Homo sapiens: one gene and its partner. The protein of the gene in region 2 purifies or fractionates together with the protein of the main gene of each other region. This does not show direct contact. Each region holds a gene or a part of one and is shown on either strand. Other genes may lie near its edges.

Region 1 (3,652 bases), on a different chromosome or scaffold from region 2:
TTTTGTATTTTTAGTAGAAATGGGGTTTCACCATGTTGGCCAGGCTGGTCTCAAACTCCTGGCCTCAAGTGATCCTCTCACCTTGACCTCTCAAAGTGCTGGGATTAAGGTGTGGGCCACTGCACCTGACCTATTTTTAAACTTTATCTCTGCTACTGACTTGGAATATCGGGAAAAGGAGGGGAATTGTTTACAATGTCCTAAGAGATCAACAGCATCTACCTGCAAAATTCCCCAGTGTAATCTCTCAATGCATTGGTGAATCTTCCCTCAAGCCAATGATCTCACCTGATTAAAACTATGCTGTGCTCTGACATCTATTTATAGCCCCCATTTTAAAAGGTATAATTGAACTATTAATTAGGAAAAATGCCTATAAAGATCCAACTTCTTTAACTCCTGGCCTCAGGTGATCCATCTGCCTCGGCCTCACAAAGTGCTGGGATTACAGGCGTGAGCCACCGCAGCCAGCTTTCTAATACCATTTCTATCACGACAGTTAAGTGTACAGATATCAAAATTCAACAAGTAAAAGCTCGCTCATCCTTGATTTAATGGGTAGAAAGTTCCATGACGTTCTACTATATCCAAAATTGTCGATGTAACAGGAATTTGACTTCTGAGTCTCCTACTAGTCCAACAGCTTAAATTCACAGTGCTTTGTAATGGGATGACAAAACCGTCTAGATCATTATAAGGAATTGACTGCATTTAACAATGCTAACAATGTTTTTTACAAGGCATTATATGGAGCTGCTATGCCTGGCTTCTTTCCATTAGATATTATGGTTGACTACCATTTAAAAACTGTGATTTGGCTTTTACTAATGAATTCCTTATGTGATTTTGCCACAATAAAAAAAATATAAATGCTGTCATGATCACTGAAGCAAACAATGCAGAACTATTATGTGTCTTGCAGAATATATTATGTCAACAGGAGATAGATCCCATGGTTTTCTAAAACAATTTACTACCATTAAAGTGATAAAAGGTTAATATTACTAGTATACCACTCCCATTAGGGAGCAGGGATTTTAAAGCTGACTTGAATTAGAACCTTCTCATTTATCAAATGATTCATTCAACAGCATAGCAATAAAATGCTATGCTGTAATTTTCACACTCTTTTTCCAGCAAACCATTTTGTTGTTGTTGTTGTTGTTTTTGAGACAGACTCTTACTCTGTCACCCAGGCTGGAGTACAGAGGCACGATCTTGGCTCACTGCAACCTCCACCTTCCAGGCTCAAGCCATTCTCCTGCCTCAGCCTCCTGAGTAGCTGGGATTACAGACGCCCACCACAATGCCCAGCTAATATTTGTAATTTTAGTAGAGATGGGGTTTCACCATGTTGGCCAGGCTGGTCTTGAACTCCTGACCTCAAGTGATCCACCCACCTCAGCCTCCCAAAGTGCCGGGATTACAGGTCTGAGCCACCGTGCCCAGCGCAACAAAACATTTCTTAAGGAAATCATATGCAGAATCCCAATATATATACCACAGACAACAATGACACTGCTCTACATGATACAAGTTAAGGAGCTTAGCCTCCTCCTTGCCCTACATGCCATATAAAGCCCTGTGCAGAATCTAGGGCTCTGTGGAATTCAGCCAGAAAACCAATGAACTGCTAGAAAAAAATGTGGAATCTAAATCACAATTCTGCCCTTTATTAACTGTTTACTTTGGTTAAGTTAATCCTCTGAAGAACTGTTACTTGGCTCAAACTTTTTGTAGAACTCTTTGTAAATCTTTGTAAACGATATATTCTAATACAAAGCTGATGGCAGATGCAAGGCTTTTTGCCAAGTGAGCACAATAAAAATAACACACTTTGTAAAGTGCGTACAATCTGGTAGTACACACATAGCAGCAAACATAATTCTGCTATTCAAAGTTCTATGCCTTCTGTATACCTGGTGCCTTGAGCAAAAAATTGTTAAATGAATGAGAAAATTGGCTCTGCCTGAAGATTAGGAAACTTCACAGAGATGGGGTGACACTGAAAGTGAGCTCTGATGTTGGGCAGAAAAGAGTTTACATAGGCCCAAGGCTGCTATCCTTAGAAAGTTCTGGGCTGGGCACGGCGGCTCACTCCTGTAATCCCAGCACTTTGGGAGCCCGAGGCAGGTGGACCATGAGGTCGGGAGTTCGAGACCAGCCTGACCAAAATGGTGAAACCCCGTCTCTACTTAAAAAAAAAAAAAAAATACAAAAATGAGCTGGGCGTGGTGGCGCATGCCTATAATCCCAGCTACTCAGGAGACTGAGGCAGAAGAATCGCTTGAACCCAGGAGGCGGAGGCTGCAGTGAGCCGAGATCACACCACTGCAGTCCAGCCTGGGCAACAGAGTGAGACTTGGTCTCAAAAAAAAAAAAAACAAAAAAAACAGAAAGGTCTGCTTACAAGGGTGGCCACTGCATAGTGTCGGAGAATTTGACTAGCACACAGTTCCTATACTGGCATGAAACTTTCCCTAAATGATATGGGTAGCTCACTGTGCCTAAACTGTTTGTACAAACAATGTGGTTTATGCTAAACACCTGGCTTTTCTTCTGGGAATCTAGAATTTTGGTACATGCTAGGCAGAGGGTACCCTATATGAAGTCCCAATAAAAACCTTCTGCAATGAGTCTCTAATGAGCTTCCCAGGTAGAAAACACTTAACACATGTTGTTACAACTCATTACTGGAGGAATTAAACTGTCCTGTGTGACTCTACTAGAAGAGGACTCTTAGAAGGTTTCCTCCGGACTTTACTCCATGTACCCTTTCCCTTTGCTGATTTTGCTTTGTATCCTTTCCACTGCAATACATTTTAGCCATGAGTTCAATGAACATATGCAGAGTCCTGGAAGTCATCTCTCGTTAGCCACCAAACCTGGAGGTGGTCCTGCGGATTCCTAACACAAAGGGTATATTCAAAGGTACTACCTAGCTATTTAAATTACAATACTTTTATACAATTTAATTTTCAAGTTCAACTTACTTTCAAAACCCGAGAATTGCCTCCGTTCTGTTAAGACAACAGGCCTTAAAAAGGTAAATGAGGAAAGAAAATTGTGAAGGAATGAAGTGTCTGCCTTAAATATAGTCCTTAACATTAATACTAAAAGAAACCTCTGAAAATGAGGACCACTTTAGGAATGGTGAGAATGGACAGCAAAGCTTTACTGAAAGAAGTGACATAATCAAATGTGGTGGCTACTGTGCATCCTTCCAACAACCACATCCAAAAGCTACAATACTAATAATTCCTATATCAAAAGAAGCCACTGTTTTAAAAATAATTCAACGCTCTCCTTTCCTGTTACTCTTGCATGTTTTCAACTTAAATTTAAAAAATAACAATAATAAAGGGGTAATGAAATATTTACCAATCTGACTGCTTCTTTCATTTTTTCTGAAGCAATTGCCAAGATTTCTGTAGTAGGATTGAAGGTCAGAGAAGTAACACCTGTAACCAAGTTCATTATAGCTTTTATTGGCTTTGGGTTTGTTTCTTGGAGACAAGAATCTTGATTGTATATATTTACCACTCCACAATTAGAACTACAAAGAGAAAAGGATTAAAATAGATTAAAAACCAAGTAAAAGGGCTTTCACAACCTAAGTGAATATAGATTTAACCCCACAAACTGGTATTTA
Region 2 (3,525 bases):
ATGAAAGACAAAGACTATATCACATCACACTAGGCAGACAGTGTTTACAGGATTACACAACAATTACTCTCTCCAGTCTTCTCACGATTCCTCTGACCTAGGGAAAACGAAGAAGAGCCTCGTTTATAAAAATTCTAGAACTGGAGGGGAAAATGGGCTAGGCAATCAAGTGTAGGAAGTAGTAGTTTTGAGTTTTTAAAAATGTTTGCATTTTTCAAAATTAAGAAGCTGTAATAAATGTTCTTTTAATTTTAGCATGTTTCAAAAATGTCTGGTTATTTGCTTGACAATCTCTATTCATAAACTATGCAAACTTCCCTTCCCTCAGCATATCCAAGAAAAACCTAGCATTTTTGAATGCCTGTCTTTGTGCCTCAACTGAGATACTTTTCCAGTGCATGGCTTACCTTGAGAGTTTGGCTCTGGTAATGTCTCTCTGGCCACCAAATGCATCACTGTTGTTTTGCCAAAAGGAAGTTTTAATGCTATGTGAAAAGCAAAAGATGATTAGTTACACATATATCGACCTATTAAAATCACTATCCAGATTTAAAACCATTTTAAAAATTGATTGCTTTTTTATGACTTCTTTAACAGATTCAACTTAACTCAGAGTACCTTCACAAAATTAGGTTAATATTATCAGAAATAACATTTAAAATTTAGAAATTATTTTTTGCAGTTATATAGCCATTTGCTTGACACATTTATCCATATTAAGAGATGATATAAGAAAAAATATGTAATTGGCTAATATCAGAGGCCACCTTTAGAGGAGAAAGGATTAAATTTTTTTTAAAAGAATACTCTTTTCTATATTAGGTAAAAGTTTAGATTAAGAGATATTCATTTCTAAATCTAATTACTTGTCTATTGCCTAATAAAATTACTGCACTGAACAGGCTACTATGATGTAGAAATGCAAGAAATAAACTTGATTTTAAACATTTATTCTCACCCTGTATTCGTCCATTAGAAAAGAACTTTCTTAAAAAGATTAGGTTAAAATAATCACTTTCTTGGCATTATCAATAATCACTGTTTCCTAATCAAGTCTTTATAACATTTTTTCACTCATAAATTTAATAAATTTTATCATGAAATATTTCAGACATAGAACACACACCCATGTCCACTAAGGCAAATACAAATACTGAGTTTCATGGTAAATCCCTTTGTTACTCTGTGTATAAAATTAGAAGCAGCTGGTATATTTAGCTTCTAGAACTGTTTCTATAGTTGTTATGTTTTAGTTCTGACACCTCAAACTACCCTCTCTTCAAAAACTACAAACTGAAGTAAGGCCTAAGATCATCACTTAGCAATAATGATCCTCCACTCCAGCTACCTGCTTTTTAAAACCTGCTCTATAGGATGATGGTTAACATGCAGATTTTAAAAAGAATCCTAATTATCTTCAACACTAGTACTATTTCATATATTCAAGGTGAGTTCCAATCTCATTTAAAGTTGGCCAGCCATTATTTGGTCTACACTTTTAACCTCTGATGTTCAAATGAAGCACGATGGCCCATAAATACATAATGAAAAAAGGGAGGCTTTTAGAATAACTTCCTAGGCCTGACTTAAATCAAAATGTAAGTAAGACTTTATGTTATTAAAATTTTCACTAAATAGTTGGGAAAGCCTGATCAACATTTCAAACCTTGAACTGAACTTAAAATGTACACATACCAAGCTGTATATCATTCTCATACCCGTCTTCTTGACTCTAATAAGACAGACCTGGATTACAAATTTTCATCTCTGCTACTTCCAACTGTGTAACTCTCAGCAAGTTACTTACCCTCTAAGCTTCTGTTTCCTCAACTAAACTGGAGATACTAATTCCATTACCTGCCCTTTGTAGCTGTGTCCATTAAATCAAACAATCCAAGCAAAGTGCTTTGCACAGAACTTGGTACAAAGAAAGCATTCAGTATATACTACCATCATCATTTTGAGATAGCAAGGAAAATGAATCTGAGAAAAAAGGTAGGTAAACTGAGATATATATGTAAAAAATGTCAAGACAGGCCTGGAAAGCTCCTGAGAGGCTTACCATTTGAAGTTACAAATGTAATGCGTGGGAGCTATTATTTTTCTTCTCCATCTGAATTTTAACTAGAAATAGTAGGTATTGATGTTAATAACATTTAAAAATGTGAAAGAAGAGGAATACCAGAATCTAAAATGCGTTTTCTTCCTTTCACTGTGGATGCTTCTGCTCTCTCCTATGACACAGTACAATATCCAGAATAGAGGTTTTCAACCTTTAGCGTACATAAAAATCACCCAGGAATTCAATTCACTAGTAAAATTAGGAGATGGGGGTTGGGGAGAGAGGGCATGCAGAAATCTGCATTTTAAAATAAGTATCCTAGATGAGTCTCATGCCCACTATTTCAGAGCCACATTTTTGGAAATGCTAATCTGGGCCATACTGAATGCCAAAGCTTTAGCTGATCATCTTCTTCACCCTCCGATTAACAAGGCTGCTGTCACACCTTTCCTTTAATGAAATGAAACTCTATATGGCTATAAAGGTTCTATTTTAAAAAGGGGGGATTCAGGGCTATGTTTTAAGACATTTGATAACCAAACATTTCAACCTGAAACTTAAGCAGAAAATTTCAAGAATGGCAGAGAATGCCCAGGCTTCCTACTTTGTCTGCATAATGGCTGAATTCCACCCATGGCTGTATACCCACTACTTCGTGGTCATCCACTGCTTGACCACTACCTATAACAAGATCTCACTAACTTTCCCTGGCAGTCTATTCTTTCTTTAGGTAGCTCAACATGTTCACATATTCTTTCCTATATTGAAGAGAAAACTGTCTTTGATTTTCAGTTACTGATCCTAAGTCTAATTCACAGGGCTATACAGAGCAAGTTCTAGGGCCACACAAAGCCTTCTTCCACACAGGCCACTCAAATATTTAAAGATGGTTGTATTTCCCTGTGTGCTATCTTCTTTATTATTCACATTGAAGAACACAGGGAGGCTAAAAAGAAAAACTGAGACCCAAAAGACAAATAGTTGAATGTTGTTATCCAAACTTGCTCAAACATCCAGCTACAATTATTAACGCGGAGGTCCAGGCCATGCTTCTACACTAGAGATAGTTTATTGTTTTTGAAAAGAAGGACAGCAACACAGAATTACAATAATAATTACATAAGTCAATCTGTTCATTATTCTAAAACAGATTTCAAAAAAATACTGGTAAAAAATTATACTTTAGTGGGAATAAATCAATAGTTTTGATTTTAACACAAATTCTATGAGCTTTAATATGAAGTTCAAACTCTGAGGTCACAACAGAAAAGATAATTAAGGAATGGAGTTGGTGGGAAATTGCTCACATAGATCAATACTCAAAAGGGAAATGGAGCATTTCAAGGTTCACTCATATAATCGATAGATTAAATTCAACCAACATTTACCAATTTTTAATTCACATAAGATCTTGTATGAGCCATGGAGAATTTTAAAAAGACTAGAACATGGTCCCATCCTTA

Evidence for each region. The genes of interacting proteins can lie anywhere in the genome.
Region 1: the proteins of UBL3 (region 2) and UTP18 purify together in Homo sapiens (affinity purification with western blotting, with the first as the bait; one large-scale study listed by BioGRID). This does not show direct contact.

What each region holds. Positions count from the first base shown.
Region 1 is NC_000017.11:51,287,933-51,291,584, reverse strand, and holds part of UTP18 (U3 small nucleolar RNA-associated protein 18 homolog), read right to left. Parts: intron 3,557-3,652; coding exon 3,382-3,556; intron 3,038-3,381; coding exon of another isoform or gene 2,996-3,037; exon of another isoform or gene 2,393-2,995; intron 1-2,392. UniProt on the Homo sapiens protein: Part of the small subunit (SSU) processome, first precursor of the small eukaryotic ribosomal subunit.
Region 2 is NC_000013.11:29,767,211-29,770,735, forward strand, and holds part of UBL3 (ubiquitin-like protein 3), read right to left. Parts: intron 486-3,525; coding exon 408-485; intron 98-407; coding exon 45-97; 3' UTR 1-44.